Linked DNA regions of Homo sapiens: all the other regions are linked to region 1. Evidence: fine-mapped expression QTL. A gene starts in region 1. Each other region holds a variant in brackets. All regions are shown on one strand. Distances are from middle to middle. Region 1 holds the start of MTMR3 (myotubularin related protein 3). Region 2 overlaps HORMAD2 (HORMA domain containing 2). Region 3 overlaps MTMR3 (myotubularin related protein 3).

The links. PIP is the estimated chance that this variant, and not a neighbour inherited with it, causes the effect.
Region 2: its variant is fine-mapped to the expression of MTMR3 in monocytes (TOPMed, PIP above 0.99).
Region 3: its variant is fine-mapped to the expression of MTMR3 in whole blood (INTERVAL, PIP 0.92).

The regions. Positions count from the first base shown.
Region 1 is chr22:29,880,246-29,885,515 of GRCh38, reverse strand. MTMR3 (myotubularin related protein 3) reads right to left here and starts at 2,342. Exons shown (of 20, transcript NM_021090.4): 1 at 2,157-2,342. RefSeq lists silencers at 1,800-2,299, 2,360-2,529 and an enhancer at 2,242-2,536.
Region 2 is chr22:30,086,708-30,091,977 of GRCh38, reverse strand. All of the region lies in intron 1 of HORMAD2 (HORMA domain containing 2), which reads right to left. Among named protein-coding and RNA genes, the nearest start is that of HORMAD2, 8.9 kb to the right of the region's middle. The variant C/A (reference allele first, on the strand shown) is at 2,627.
Region 3 is chr22:29,967,067-29,972,336 of GRCh38, reverse strand. MTMR3 (myotubularin related protein 3) reads right to left here. Exons shown (of 20, transcript NM_021090.4): 3 at 1,275-1,361. The coding sequence starts at 1,277. Among named protein-coding and RNA genes, the nearest start is that of MIR6818, 37 kb to the left of the region's middle. The variant G/A (reference allele first, on the strand shown) is at 3,142.

The DNA of each region.
Region 1 (5,270 bases):
CAGTATATCTCCAATTAATCAGCATCTAATTTTATCAAGTGTGTTCCTAATAACTTGTTTGCAAATTAACTTTTGGCAACAAATCTGTTTCCCCTACATAAATCCATTATATTTTAAGAGATGCTCAATTTGCATCTCTTTAAGTTTCTCATGCTTCCCCTTCTCCACCTCTTAAATTCTTAAAGATCTATAAACAAAAGCACCCTGAGAAGTCATAATTAATGGGACTTCTTTGGAATACCCAACCTAAAGCAAAAGTTCACATGCCTTGCTGACCAGAATCATTCACGGAGCTTTGTAAGGACAGATCCCCAGGCTCTATCCTCAGAGATTTTAATTCACCAGGTCCTGCATGAGTTCGAGGAATTTAGGTAGTCCATAATATTTCTAATGACCAGCCTTAAACTAGACAACCACTGAAGAACCTGGCCTATGAGCTGAGAAACTCAGGGTTTTTTATGGCTGGTCATTAACGACAAGCGGGGCTGTACCACTGTGCTGGTCACTTGAAGTTCTCTGAGTCACCTGAAAATGAGGGAGTAATTGGAGCCAAAAGAGGTATTCATAGGCAGCCAATCTAAAATTCTAGAATCCTCCAAATTTAATTTAATATCACATACTATACTGGGTTTACTCAAAACAGTGTCATTCTGGCTGGCGGCAGTGGCTCACGCCTATAATCCCAACACTTTCGAAGGCCAACGCAAGCGGATCACTTGAGGTCAAGAGTTCCAGGCCAGCCTGGCCAACATGGTGAAATCCCCGTCTCTACTAAAAATACAAAAATTAGCCAGCCGTGGTGGCGCACACTTGTAATCCCAGCTACTTGGGAGGCTGAGGTGGGAGGATTGCTAGAACCTGGCAGGCGGAGGTTGCAGTGAGCAGAGATCGCACTACTGCACTCCGGCCTGGGCGGGAGAGAGAGATTCTGTCTTAAAAAAAAAAAAAAAAAAAAAAAAAAAAAGTGTCATTCTGTAAGCTCTTCTAGCCTACCCAAGTCATAGGCCCTATAAAGGGAAGACTTTCTGCATGCCATCAATGTCTCCTGTCCTACTGAACAGCCCTGAATCTGAAAGGGGAAGGTCCCCACCACCTCTCCATGGACAAATCACAAACATTTCACATTGAAAAAAATAATAATAATCTCCTGTAATTCAACCCAGGCCTCTTATGGCATTACCATTCACATATGAGAAAGTTGAACCTTAACTAGAAAAGTATATGGTTTTGGGGTTTTGTTTTGTTTTGTTTTGTTTGTTTGGGTTGTGGAAAAATAGATGTCAGAATCAAGATACTACAACAGTAAGAATTTAGGCCTGGGTCTGGAAAGGACATTTGAACATCAATATGTAATAGCAGTCCATGTCCAAAACTCACAAGTGAGATTATCAAATTCCAGGGGAGTCTATTAATGTGGCCAAAAAATCTACCCCATAATTTTGACATAAGTTTTCCAGTCCAAAATACAACCTACAGTATCATCTTATGGGTCCGGAAATGCCATACATCAAGCAAAATTACTACCGGAGAAATAACACTGTAATCATTTGCGGAGCAGTCTGACCAGGGTTCCCTCAGTTACGCCAACCGCCCCCAATCATCCTACCCACCTAAGTACTACCAGGTCAGGGGGATGCCCTGCTGCACGATCGGGCGGTCACTCCTCCTTTCCACAAGGCCCAGGCCCGCACCGTTCGCCCCGGGGCTCCCATGGCCCCTGACCTCCAGTATCCGGCAACGATGGACCGCCACAGACCCGGCAGGGGGCGAAGGGCGCACACCCACCTCCCGGGAGTTCGTGGGAATAACTCCGGGCGCTCCGAGGGTACGTCCCACACCCAGAGCCGCACGGGCCCATCCCCGCCAGGTCTGGGAAGGCAGCCCGAGCCCGGGACCCCGCCTCCCCCGCATCTAGGGTCCGGGCCGAGCTCGGCCGCCGAGCTCCCATTCCCACTCCCACACCCAGCGCCTCCCCCTGGCGGCGACAGCCGCCGGGGACGCCCCTCCCCGGGCCCCGCACGCAGTCCCCAGCCCTCCCAGGGCGCTGCCTCCTCAGAGGGTGACAGCCGCCTGGCCAGGGCCGGGGCCGAGGCCGGCCCCTCCTCCAGCTCTTCCTCACCCGCCGAGGAGACGGAGGACGGGGATGGGGTTCTTACCGGGCAGCAGGACATGGCGAGGCCCTCCACGGCACAGTCTCCCCCTCCGCCACCCCACCAGGCTCCCTGCCAGGGCCGGCGCTGGGCAGCGCCTGAGCCGCTGGGACGTCTCGTCCGGCTGCTACTCCGCCGCCGCCGCCGCCTTCTCACAACCACAACAACATGGCGGCAGCGGCCACACAGAGCGCGCTCCCGACGCCGAGCCGGGCGACGAGCGAGGACGCGCGCGCACGCTCGGGCGCTGAGCCCGGTGTCCGGGAAAGGGGGCGGGTCTCCGCCGGTTGGACGGGGGCGGGGCCTGGACAGGTGGTCACGCCCCAGGAGATGGGCGGGGCTGCAGCTGGGGAGAGGCTCGCGAAAAAGCCCAGCGGAGCAAGAATGGCTAGACAGATGGGAAATGGGTGGAGGAAAAGAGATGACAAAAAAAAATCTGGAAGAAAACCAAAGGTGGTCCTACAGATTTTTAGGAGGCGTCTTTTCCAAGCTCTGTAACCCTGGGCAAGACATGGCTCACTCTACTTACCAGAAAAATAGAACAATAGTGGTATCTTCCACCTGCAATTGTGGTCAGGATAAAACCAGTTTAATATAATGCAAGTAAATATAGTGTTTTAGAAGTTGTATTCAGAATACAATTTCTTTTCTTTTCTTTTCTTTTTTTTTTTTTTTTTTTTTTTTTTGAGACAGAGTCTGGCTCTGTCGCCCAGGCTGGAGTGCAGTGGCATCTCGGCTCACTGCAACCTCTGCCTCCCGGGCTCAAGCGATCCTCACACCTCAGCCTCCTGAGTAGCTGAGACTACAGACTCACAACATCATGCCCGGCTAAATTTTGTATTTTTTGTAGAGATGAGGTTTCTGCCATTTTGTCCAGGCTGATCTCAAACTCCTGGGCTGAAGCAATCCACCCACCTCGGCCTCCCAAAGCGCTGGGATTACAGGCATGAACCACCGCATCCGGTCCAGAATACAATTTCAAACTGATTCAACTTCAGCTCCTAATCAAAAGCTCAGCGGGAAGAAGTGAGTTTTCAAACAAAGTAAAAAACAACTCCCCCAAAAAATTGTAACCTACCCACACTAGCCTGCAGAATTCCACAAACCAGGATTGCATTACCGTAGGCCCTAACAGATTCACCTCCTCTGAGTTGCCTTTTAACATTCTACCCTTGACTTTTCTGGAAACTGGGAGAACTAGTCAAATGAAATCTATTCCTGCGTCTGTTGTAAAGTTTTTCCACAGCACTTTCTGAAATTTATTTTCAATGTTTACTGTCATTTTACTCCACTAAAATGTAAAAGCTACTTGAAGATAAGGATCTTGTCTTGTTCGTCACTGTTTCCCCAGCACCTAGAACTGTGCAGGTTAAGTAGTAGGCAGTCGAATTTCTTGATTAACTAACAGCTGGCTGGGCGCGGGGGCTCACGCCTGTAATCCCAGCACTTTGGGAGGCCAAGGTGAGTGGATCACCTGAACTCAGGTGTTCGATACCAGCCTGGCCAACTTGGTGAAACCCCGGATCTACTAAAAATACAAAAGTTAGCTGGGCATGGTGGCGGGCGCCTGTAATCCCAGCTACTTGGGAGGCTGAGGCAGGAGAATAACTTGAACCCGGGAGGCGGAGGTTGCAGTGAGCTGAGACTGCGCCACCGCACTCCAGCCTGGGCGACAGAGCAAGACTCCGTCTCAAAAAAACGAAACTAAACTAACAGCTAACATTTATTCATACAACTCATCTAATTGAATCTTCACAACTTTAATAGGTAGATGCCATTATCTCCATATTACAGATGAAGAAAGTGAAGCACAGAATAAATTGCGTGTATTAAAACAAAATTCAAACCCAGCAGACAAAAAAAAAAAAAAAATACTGTGCTGTCTTACCCACCAGGCTGTACTGCCCAGTGCATGGACACAGTAGCCTGAAATAAAATCTCAAGTAAGAAATTACTTTAGGCCGGGCGCAGTGGCTCATGCCTGAAATCCCAGCACTTTAGGAGGCCGAGGCAGGTGGATTGCTTGAGCTCAGGAGTTCGAGACCAGCCTAGGCAACATGGCGAAATCCCATCTCTACAAAAAATACCAAAAAACTGGCCAGGCGTGGTGGTGCACGCCTGTAGTCCCAGCTATTTGAGAGGCTGAGGTGGGAGAATGGCTTGAGCCTGGGAGGCAGAGGTTGCAGTGAGCCCTGATTGTGCCACTGCACTCCAATCTGGGTGTCAGAGAGAGAAAAAAGAAAGAACGAAATAAATTACTTTAGAGTTAAAAGCTTGGAAAGCCCTTGCTTTACTACCAGAAAAACCGGTGTGCTTCCTGCTTTTTGATAACTGTTACGCATCTGATTGTGTCTCTCTTTTCACTCTGGCTTCCAGAAAGCCCAGGGCTAAATGTGAAGCTCAGCAATGACCTCTTCTTGGCCCTTGAGGGTCCACTCCTGCCTCAACTTTGCACCTGTATTTATATGTGGCTGCCCTGATTTTCCCTTTCTGTTCTATGACTGACTATAGGCTTAATGGAATGGGAGAAGAAACAGTAAATACTAAAATTGATGAATGATTTAAAGTTTTTTTATTTTATTTTATTTTATTTTATTTTTGAGACAGAGTTTCACTCTTGTTGCCCAGGCTGGAGGGTAATGGCGGGAACTTGGCTCACTGCAACCTCTGCCTCCCGGGTTCAACCGACTCTCCTGCCTCAGCCTCCCGAGTAGCTGGGATTACAGGCATACGCCACCACACCCGGCTAATTTTTTGTATTTTTAGTAGGGACGGGGTTTCTCCATGTTGGTCAGGCTGGTCTCGAACTCCCGACCTCAGGTGATCCACCAGTCTCGGCCTCCCAAAGTGCTGGGATTACAGGCATGAGCCACCGTGCCCGGCCTCTTTTTATTTTTATATTTTATTTTATTTTCAGACAAGGTCTCACTCTGTTGTCCAGGCTGGAGTGCAGTGGCTGGATCTCTGCTCACTGCAACCTCTACCTCCCAGGGCTCGAGCCATCCTCCCACCTCAGCCTCTTGAGAAGCTGGGACTACAGGCGTGCTCCACCACACCTGGCTAACTTTTGTATTTCTCATAGAGACGGGGGGTGGGGGTGGTGTCTCACCGTGTTCCCCA
Region 2 (5,270 bases), 210 kb before region 1:
TTGAACCGGGGAGGTGGAGGTTGCAGTTAGCCAAGATCTTGTCACTGCACTCCAGCCTGGGCAACAGAGCAAGACTCCATCTCAAAAAATGAAATGAAATAAAATAAAATAAAATAACAAAAAATAACGAATGCTGGCAAGGATGCAAAGAAAAGAAAATTCTTATACACTGTTGGTAAGAATGTAAATTAGTACAAGCATTATGGAAAACAGTATGGAAGGTCCTCAAAAATCTTAAAATAGAAACCATATAATCCAGCAATCCTACTATTGGGTATTTATCCAAAAGAAAAGAAATCAGTATATGGAAGAGATATCTATACCTCCATGTTTATTGCAGCACTATTCACAATAGCCAAGATATGGAATCAACCTAAGTGTCCATCAACAGATGAATGCATGAATAAAATATAGGCCGGGGTGGCAGCTCATGTCTGTAATCCCAGCACTTTGGGAGGTTGAGGCAGGCAGGTTGCTTGAGCCCAGGAGTTCAAGACCAGCCTAGGCAACATGGTGAAACCCTATCTGTACAAAAAATACGAAAATTAGCTGGGTGTGGTGGCACGCACCTATAGTCCCAGCTACTTGGGAAGCTAAGGTGGACTACTTGAGCCCAGGAGTTCAAGGCTGCAGTGCAGTGAGCCATGATTGCACCACTGCACTCCAGCCTGGGCAACAGAGCAAGACTCTGTCAAAAAAAAAAAAAAAAAAGAAAGAAAGAGAGAAAGAAAGAGAGAGAGAGAGAAAGAGAAAAAGAAAGAAAGGAAGGAAAGGATATATATACACAATGGAATATTATTCAGCCATTTAAAAAAGCATGAAATCTGTCATTCACAGCAACAGAGATTAACCTAGATGATATAATTTTAAGTGAAGTAAGTCAAGTACAGAAAGATAAATACCATGTGTTCTCACTCATCTGGGAGCTAAAACAGATGAGCTCTCAGAAGTAGTTATTAAAAGCTAGGAAGGGCAGCAGGGAGGAGGTTGGATAGGGAGAAGTTAGTTAATGGATATAAAATTACAGCTAGATAGGAGAATAAATTATATTGTTCTATAGCACTGTAGAGTGACCACAGTTAACAATGATTTATTGTATATTTTAAAATAGTTCAACACAAAGAATGATAAATGTTTGAATTGATGAATATGCTTTGACTTGACCATTACATATTGTATACATGTATCAAAATATCACTCTGTACCCCATAAATATGTACAATTACTGTGTGTCAATTAAAAATTTTATAAATGATTATTCAAAAATGGAAAATAGTAAGTTGGTAAGGATGTGGAGAAATTAAAACCCTTATGCATTGCTGGTGGGAATGAAAATGGTGCAGCCATTGTGGAAAATAGCAATGGCATTCCTCAAAAAGTTAAACAGAATTACCATATTATCTAGCATTTCCATCTCTAGGTATATATTCAAAAGAATTGAAACCAGGGACTCAAACAGATACTTGTACACCAATGCTCATAGCCACATAATTCATATTAGCCAAAAGATGGAAACAGTTCGAATGTCTATTAAAAGATGAATGGATAAACAAAATGTGGTATTTACAATGGAATATTACTCAATTGTTTTATTTGTTTGTTTTGTTTTGTTTTTGAGACGGGGTCTCCTTCTGTCACCCACAGTAGAGTGCAATGGCGTGATCTCGGCTCACTGCAACCTCCCGCTCCCAGGCTTAAATGATTCTCCCACCTCAGCCTCTCGAGTAGCTGGGACTACAAGCATTTGCCACCACACCTCGCTAATTTTTGTATTTTTTGTGGAGATGGGGTTTTGTCATGTTGCCCAGGCTGGTCTTGAATTCCTAGGTTCAGGCAATCCACCCGCCTCATCCTCCCAGTGTGCTGGGATTATAGGCATGAGCCACCACACCCGACCCCTATTCAATCTTAAAAAGGAATGAAGTTCTGATACATGCAACAATGTGAATAAATCTTGAAAACATTATGCTAAGTGAAAAGCCAGACATAAAAGGACAAATATTATATGATCCCACTTATATGAGGTACCTACAGTAGGCAAATTCACAGAGACAGAAAGTAGAATAGAGGTTACCAGGTGCTGGTGGGGTAGAAGGAATAAAGAGTTTAATAGGTATAGAGTTTCTGTTCACGATGATGAGAAGGTTTTAGAAATGGATAGTGATAATGGTTGCACAACATTGCAAATGTGCTTAGTGTCACTGAGTTGTACACTTAGAAAAGCTGAGGTGTTGAGTTTCATATTACAGTTTACCACAATAAAAAAGTTAATATTTAAAATACATCTAGTTTTCACCCTTATTGTTTTGTTGATATAAAAAAGAAGCAGCCGGGCATGGTGGCTCATGCCTGTAATCCCAGGACTTTGGGAGGCCAAGGCGGGTGGATCACGAGGTCAGGAGATCAAGACCATCCTGGCCAACATGGTGAAATCCCATCTCTACTAAAAATACAAAAATTAGACAGGCATAGTGGCAGGCGCCTATAGTCCCAGCTACTCAGGAGGCTGAGGCAGGAGAACGGCGTGAACCCGGGAGGTGGAGCTTGCAGTGAGCCAAGATTGCGCCACTGCACTCCAGCCTGGCCGACAGAGCCAGACTCCATCTCAAAAAAAAAAAAAAAGAAG[C/A]AGCAGCAAATTTTCCCTTTTCTTTACAAAGTCTTAATTTAATTTCAACTGGGGCTTCTTTTCAAGGTTTTATGAAGTTCTGACCAAAATACTTGTAAAATAACTTCTTTAAAGATATTCCATTCTGGATCACCAAGGATAGCCTGTGACCGGTTTTTGTGTATCCATTAATGCAAGATTCTTGAAGATTTTTCCCAAGAGGGCAGAATTATTTGCGAACACTGCCACAAGGTGGTGATAGAGATTATAAATAGGTGGTAATATTAAATTTCTTTCAAATTATTTCTTCAGAGGGGCACTAGGGGACACTCTTTTACAATATTTTATATATGAGACTGAAAACCACCAATAGTTCTTTAACCCTTAAAGATTCCAAGCTATCTTTACTTGATTTGAGACTATAACCTTCATATCTAATACATCAGTTGTCCCCCTTAAATTTCAAAAAATAAAATGGGAAACAAAGTAGCTCTAAGAGTTTAAGATCTAGTCCCAGCCCATTAAACCATAATACACTACCCACTACTGGGGTAGTTATTAGTCTTAGACACAATAAATAAGAGAAATCATGATTTTCTAGAATAGTTTTCTATATTAGTATAGAATACTAATATTAATAAAACTAATAAAACTTAATAAAACTTACTTTTTAATTTTTAAATTAATTTTTAAATTAACTTTTTTAATTAATAAAATTAATAAAACTAATAAAACTTACTTATTAAAACTTACTTAATAAAACTAAATAGTTTTCTAAATTAGTAGGGTTTTAAAAATTTCTCTATGATCATAGACATTCTGATGTCATTTCTAGGGAATCAAGCTCTGAAAATAGCATCAGCCAATTAGAACACAAGGCATTACTACATCCATATTTTTGCAATGTATGGATGGCCTAGATTAAATTAATATTACCATTGAAAACTCTGAGGCATTCAGGACACTTGCTATTGAGAAAGGATTCAAGCAGGTTAATATTAGCATTTGGTAAATTCCTTAGGAATTGACATTTATAAAAGTAAAATTAAATTTTATACATATATGTATATATGTGTATATATATGTATGTATATATGTGTGTATATATGTATATATGTGTGTATATGTATATATGTGTGTATATATGTATATATGTGTATATATGTATATATGTATACATAGGTATATATGTATATATGTATACATAGGTATACGTGTATACATATGTGTATATGTACACATGTGTACGTGTGTGTATATGTACACGTGTGTACGTGTGTGTATATGTACACGTGTGTACGTGTGTGTATATGTATACGTGTGTACGTGTGTATACACATATACAGATCTGTATATGTATATATGTATGTGTGTGTATATATATATGTATATATATAGAGAGAGAGAGAGAAATAACCAGCAGTATAATCTAGTAGAAAGAGCCTTTAGAGTTAAGGAACCTAAGTTCAAATTCTGACTCAGTTACCTAGCAGCTGGCATGGCCAGGCACAGTAGGAGATAACTGGATCATCTGGGCAGTTTCTCATGAATGGTTTAGCACTATACCCTCAGTGCAGTTCTTGCAATAGTAAGTGAGTGAGTTATTGCAAGATCTGGTTGTTTAAAGGTGTGTAGAACCTTTTTTTTTTTCCTCTCTCTCTCTCTCCTGCTTTGGCCATGTAAGATGTGCCTGCTTCTCCTTTGTCTTCTGCCATAATTGTAAGTTTCCTGAGGCCTCCTCAAAAGTCAGGCAGATGCTACCATGCTTTCTGTACAGCCTGTGGAACTGTGAGCCAATTAAACCTCTTTTCTTTATAAATTACCCAGTCTCAGAAATTTCTTTATAGCAATGCAAGAACAGACTAAAACAGAGCTCTTCTTTTTTACTTCTACCACACACTCCCTGGATGAACAAATACACTCCCATTGTTTCAAGTATAACTTCTATCTTATTGATTCTTATGTGTATATCCCCAACCCAGGTCTCTCTCAGAAGTTGCTGACTTGTTCTTCTAACTGATCATAAGACTGTTCCACCTTGATGTTCTCAACACATTTGAATGTGAATTATTTTCCCCAAAAACTTACTTCTGTTCCCTCGCTCAGTGAATGACATCATCACATACCTAGTTGCTCAAGCACAAAATCTGTGACTCAACCTTAATCCCTTCCTCGTTCCCATGTTCCATCACCTTAATATTTCTCAAATGTAGGCCAGGCGCAGTGGCTCACGCCTGTAATCCCAGGACTTTGGGAGGCTGAGGTGGGCGGATCACCTGAGGTCAGGAGTTCAAGACCAGCCTGACCAACATGGAGAAACCCCATCTCTACTGAAAATACAAAATTAGCTGGGCGTGGTGGCACATGCTTGACCAACATGGAGAAACCCCATCTCTACTAAAAATACAAAATTAGCTGGGCGTAGTGGCACATGCCTGTAATCCCAGCTACTTGGGAGGCTGAGGCAGGAGAATCGCTTGAACCCAGTAGATGGAGGTTGCAGTGAGCCAAGATCACGCCATTGCATTCCAGCCTGGGCAACAAGAGTGAAACCCTGTCCCCCTGCACATACATATATATATATATATCTCAAATGTGTCCAACTCCTCACTTTAGCCAGGTTGTTGTCATCTCTACTTTAAATCAACCAGTCTCATCTTTTGCC
Region 3 (5,270 bases), 87 kb before region 1:
ACCACACTGTTACTAGCCGTGTGGTATACAATGAAGGACAAACCCTCAATACAGAACAGAGCTGCTTTCATAAGCCCATCATTTGTTATTCATTAGCACTGGCTGAAATACTAGACAAGCACTTTTTCAATTCATTGAAAACTCTGTGGGAAAACCAATAAAATAAAATATAATCAAGAAAATAACAGGAAAAGTTCATCAATGTTTAGGTATAAGATAAATCATAAAGTTGTAATGCCCACAAACTAAGAAAAAATTGGCATGCCTTTAAGATAAGGGCAGTTACCTTTCTCTTCCTTTTAATATGACATTTCTGCACAACTAGTTTTTTTGTTTTACTTTTTCTAATTTTGAAAAGCATTTTCCATACGTCCCTAATGAAGCTTGAAATTAATGTAGCCTTTTCAATTCCTTCTCTGTGCATCAGCATAAAACAGTTTGGATCTAGGAAACATCACAAGGTAGAAGAAGGACAATATTACAGAGGACCATTTCTTTTTTAAGCCTTGAAGCACTGTTTACATTTCCTCAGGATTGATGAAAATGTGGCTGGCTTGTTGCTCCATCTTCTCTGCTTGAGCTGGGCCCGAAATGGCCCGTAAGTCATTAAATTGTCCATTAAATTCTCTTTCTGGTTAAAGATACAGGAGGGGGTGTGCAGGGCTGCTCCACCTACTATGGGATCAAAATACTGCCTTAAAGAGACAAAACAGGGAAGGTAGGGAATTGCTTCTATAAATTCATAAAGCATATATACTATGTGAAGTAATACATATGTTAATCAGCTTGATTTAGCCATTCCACAAGGTATATATGTATTTCAAAACATTATGCTGTACACAATATATATGTAATTTGTCAATTTAAAAAAATTTTTAAGTAAATATGCAGATTACCATCTTACAATTTGTCTACACACAAACACACACACACAGTTTTCACTACACGCTACTTCCTAGAAAAGGAATTAAAAACCTGGAGTCCGAGAACTGTATGTTTTAGTCTTGATTCCATTTACTTGCTGACTGAAAAATAAGAGACAACATCTAGCTCACAGGATTAAAGTTAACAGAAATGAAACTGCTCTGTATATTGGAGTACTCTATTACTACTAAGTAAACAAGAAAAGAAAAGACACAAGAGATCTGGGAAAGAAAAAGAAATAATTTCTTACAAAAACAAAAATGGGTAAGTATGAATTTATTAGTGTTCACTTAATTGTCAGGACACAGGGTTTTTTGTTTTTTTTTTTACTCTTATTTCCTTGTACTTACCATGACAAGAGGCCCAGATTAGGAGGAGAAATCCCCGTCCCTTCTTCAGTGTCCAACAAGGCTCTCTTCTTTCCCTTATGGTGAAGTCTGGGGGTGGGGGGGAAGAGGGGGAAGAAGAAAAAAAAAAGAGGAGGGGAGGCAAAATTGGCAATAGTTTTTCCCCTAATCGGCCATATCCTCACAAAGGTATTGTATATACACAGGCCTAAGAAGCTGATCAGAGTCAGCCAAGAAAAAGTTGATTATCACCCAGCCAATTCCCACTAGTCAAATCCCAATTTGACAGTTCCTTTGTAAAACTCCTGTTAGTCTTAACCTGTTTCTGCAAAAACAGTATCAAAGGCTAACATTCCTAATGTTCGTAGTAAAACAAAAAATATCATAAAACTTGGATGAATAAAGCAACAATTAAAATCAACCTACAGGCCAGGCAAGGTGGCTTAATGCCTATAATCCCAGCACTTTCGAAGGCTGAGGCAGATAGCCTGAGCTCAGAAGTTTGAGACCAGCCTGGGCAACAGAGTGAAACTCTGTCTCAAAAAAAAAAAAAAAAAAAAAAAAAAAAGCTGGTCATGGCAGCACATGCCTGTAGTCCCAGTTACTCAGGAGGATGAGGTGGGAGGATCAACTGAGCCTGGAAGGTTGGGGCTGTAGTATGCTGTGATTACACCACTGCACTCTAGTCTGGGCAACAGAGCAAGACTCTGTCTCAAAAAAATAAATAACATCAACCTGCAAATGCAAAATCATTATTCTTGTAGTATTTTAGGATGTTTTTGTGGTTATCTCTAAATTCAAAATGGATCCCCCATCTGAGGAAACCAAACTGACTTACGAGCAAAATAGGAAAAATAAATTTGCCTTATTACCCAAATATTCTATGCTCTTCTAAAAACTTACAATCTGTACTAATACCTTTACCTGGTTTTATAAGAACAAAAAAGGGGGAAAGAATATCCAACTAGAAACCCAAAAATAGGCTTATACAAAGAGTAAGTAAGTTGCTCTTTTCTTTGAACAGTCTCATGCAAAACCAACATTTCTAGTTTGCTAAGCTTCTGTAACACAGGATATTTCAGGGAGTCTGGGCTTCAATGTGCAGCATAAAACTCTTTTAAGGGCAATGTAAGCAAGGGAACAAGAGAACATAAAAGCAGTAGCAAGGCCCAGATTGTGTTGAGGCATTTTGAGCAGAGGAATGGTAGGAGATGACTTACTCTAAAGAATCATTTTGGCCGGGTGTGGTGGCTCACGCCTGTAATCCCAGCATTCTGGGAGGCCAAGGCAGGCAGATCACGAGGTCAGGAGTTCGAGACCAGCCTGGCCAACATAGTGAAACCCCATCTCTACTAAAAATACAAAAAATTAGCAGGGCATGGGGGTGTGTGCCTGTAGTCCCAGCTACTCGGGAGGCTAAGACAGGAGAATAACGTGAACCTGGGAGGCAGAGGTTGCAGTGAGCCGAGATCACGCCATTGCACATCCAGCCCAGGTGACAGTGTGAGACTCAGTCTCAAAAAAAAACCAAAAAAACAAAAAAAAGAATCATTTTGGCTGTTGGGTAGAGAACAGTCAAGGCTACTGGGGGTAAGGGGCAAAAGAAGACCAATTAGAAAGCGTCATTAACCCCAGCAAGAGACAATATAGCAATGAAAAGGTAGTAGAGATAGAAGTGGTGGGATGTTACTGATTCTGGATATACTTTGAAAATACTGCCCATAGGATTTGAGTGGATTAATTAAATAGGATAGAAAAAGAGAAGTCAAGCTTTTTGTGTCAGCAACCGGAAGCAAGGATTTTCTATTTATTGATGAAGAGCATTGTAAGAAAAATCTATTCTTCTCGTGCCATGCAGAGACAGCTCAAC[G/A]GACAAGGAACAAGAAATTAAAGTTTCCATTTTAGACACATTATGTTTGAAAACCTATCACATATCCAAACAAAGATGCCAAGTAAAGTGCTAGTTAAACCAGACTAGAGATCAAGAAGATGGAGCCTAGAGATATAAACATAAATGTGGGAGACATCAGTGTGTGAATGGCATTAAAGCCAAATGCAGGAGCAAGTATAAATGGAGAGGCTAAGATGACTAAGGACAGGGGTTTTGGGTGCACCATTTTTTAGAGGCTGGAAGGATGAGGAAGAACCTTATGGTTCAGTAACAGACCAAGTTGGAGTCATCATTCTTAACCACTCTTCAAACCAAGCCAAACTTTTGTGATTTGGCCTAGCTCAAGAACTGAAACTAATGTAAAATTATCTCATTTATTCATTCTTTTCAATAAATATTTATTCAATATTTTCTACACTCCATGCACTGTTGTAGACTTTGGGGACACCACTGTGAACAGAAATTCATGGAACTTGATTTTATTGTTGGTCTTTCTCATTAGAAACAAAGAAACAGATAACTAATGTTAAGCAGTAGGCAACTGCTGCAAAGAAAATTAAGCAGAGTTTGGTGATGGTGTAACAGAAATGCTACTTTAGATAGGAAGGTAAAGATGTGCAAAAAGGCACTTATTGGAATTAAAAAGGAGAAGGGCAAAGGCAGAGAAAATTTGAGGGTATGAACTTATTAAAAGAACGGGATACTGTTATAAAGAACCTTTTCAAAAAAGAAACATACTGAATTACTTTTAAAAAACTGTCCTAATATTACACAAAAGATATTTGTGTTTTAGAATAAAATTTCTAAAGATAGCATCATTGACACATTCAAACTGCTGTATCTTAAACAATTTAAATGGAAGTGAATTTAATGCATTTTGCAAAACTATTAAATAACAAAATATAACTCCAGTGAGGAAGATACTAATGTCAGATGTAGATGGAATGTGAAGGTGAAACCCCCATACACTGCCGGCAGGAATGTAAAGTGGTACAACCTCTGAGGAAAAGTGTGGCAGTTCCCAAAAAAGTTTAGAGTCATCATATGTCCCATCAGTTCCACTCCTGGGTATATACCTAAGAGAACTGACAAGGTATGTCCACATAAAAACTTCTACACAAATTTTCGTAACAGCATTATTCATGATGGCCAAAAGTGCAAACAACCCAAATATGCATCAATCAATGAATGGACAAACAAAATGTGAATGGATAAACAAACAAAAAATACACACACACACACACACACACACACACAGTATATATAATGGAGTTATCCAGCAATAAAATGGAATAAAATACTGATACATGACACACATAGATGAAAACATTATGCTAAATGAGAGAACCTGGGGCACAAAAGGCCATATATTGTGTGATTCCATTTGTATGAGATGTCCAGAAAAGGTAAATCCACAGAGACAGAAAGTAGATTAGTGGTTGCCAGGAGCCAGGTTGAGGGAAGAATAGGGAGTGACTGCTAATGGGTACAAGGTACCTTTGCAGGGTGATGAAATGTTTGGAATTAGGTAATGGTAATGGTTCTACAGCTTTATGACTATACTAAAAACCACTGAATTGTATACTTTAAAAGGGTGGATTTTATGTGATATGACTTATAGCTCAAAAAAAAAAAAATACAGAAGCCATGTGCAGTGGCTCACTCTTATAATCCTAGCAATTTGGGAGGCCAGGACAGGAAGACAGCTTGAGCCCCAGAGTTCAACGCCAGCCTGGGCAACATAGCAAGACTGTCTCTACTGAAAAAAAAAAAAAATTAGGTGGTTGTGCACACCTGTAGTCCTAGCCACTTGGGAGGCTGATGTGGAAGGATCCCTTGAGCTCAGGAGTTCAAGGCTGCAGTGAGCTTATGCTACTGCACTCCAGCCTGAGTGACAGAGCAAGACCTTGTCTCTAAAAAACATGCGCGCGCGCGCGCATGCACACACACACACACACACACACACACACACACACACACAACAGAGGTGAAGAGTAACAATATAATCAAACTCTTCATAAGATAAAAATAAACGCTGCAAAAAAGTTACAGTATCAACCCAGCAGCAATGAGCATTCTAAGCCCCTAGACTGTGGTCCCTAAAGACT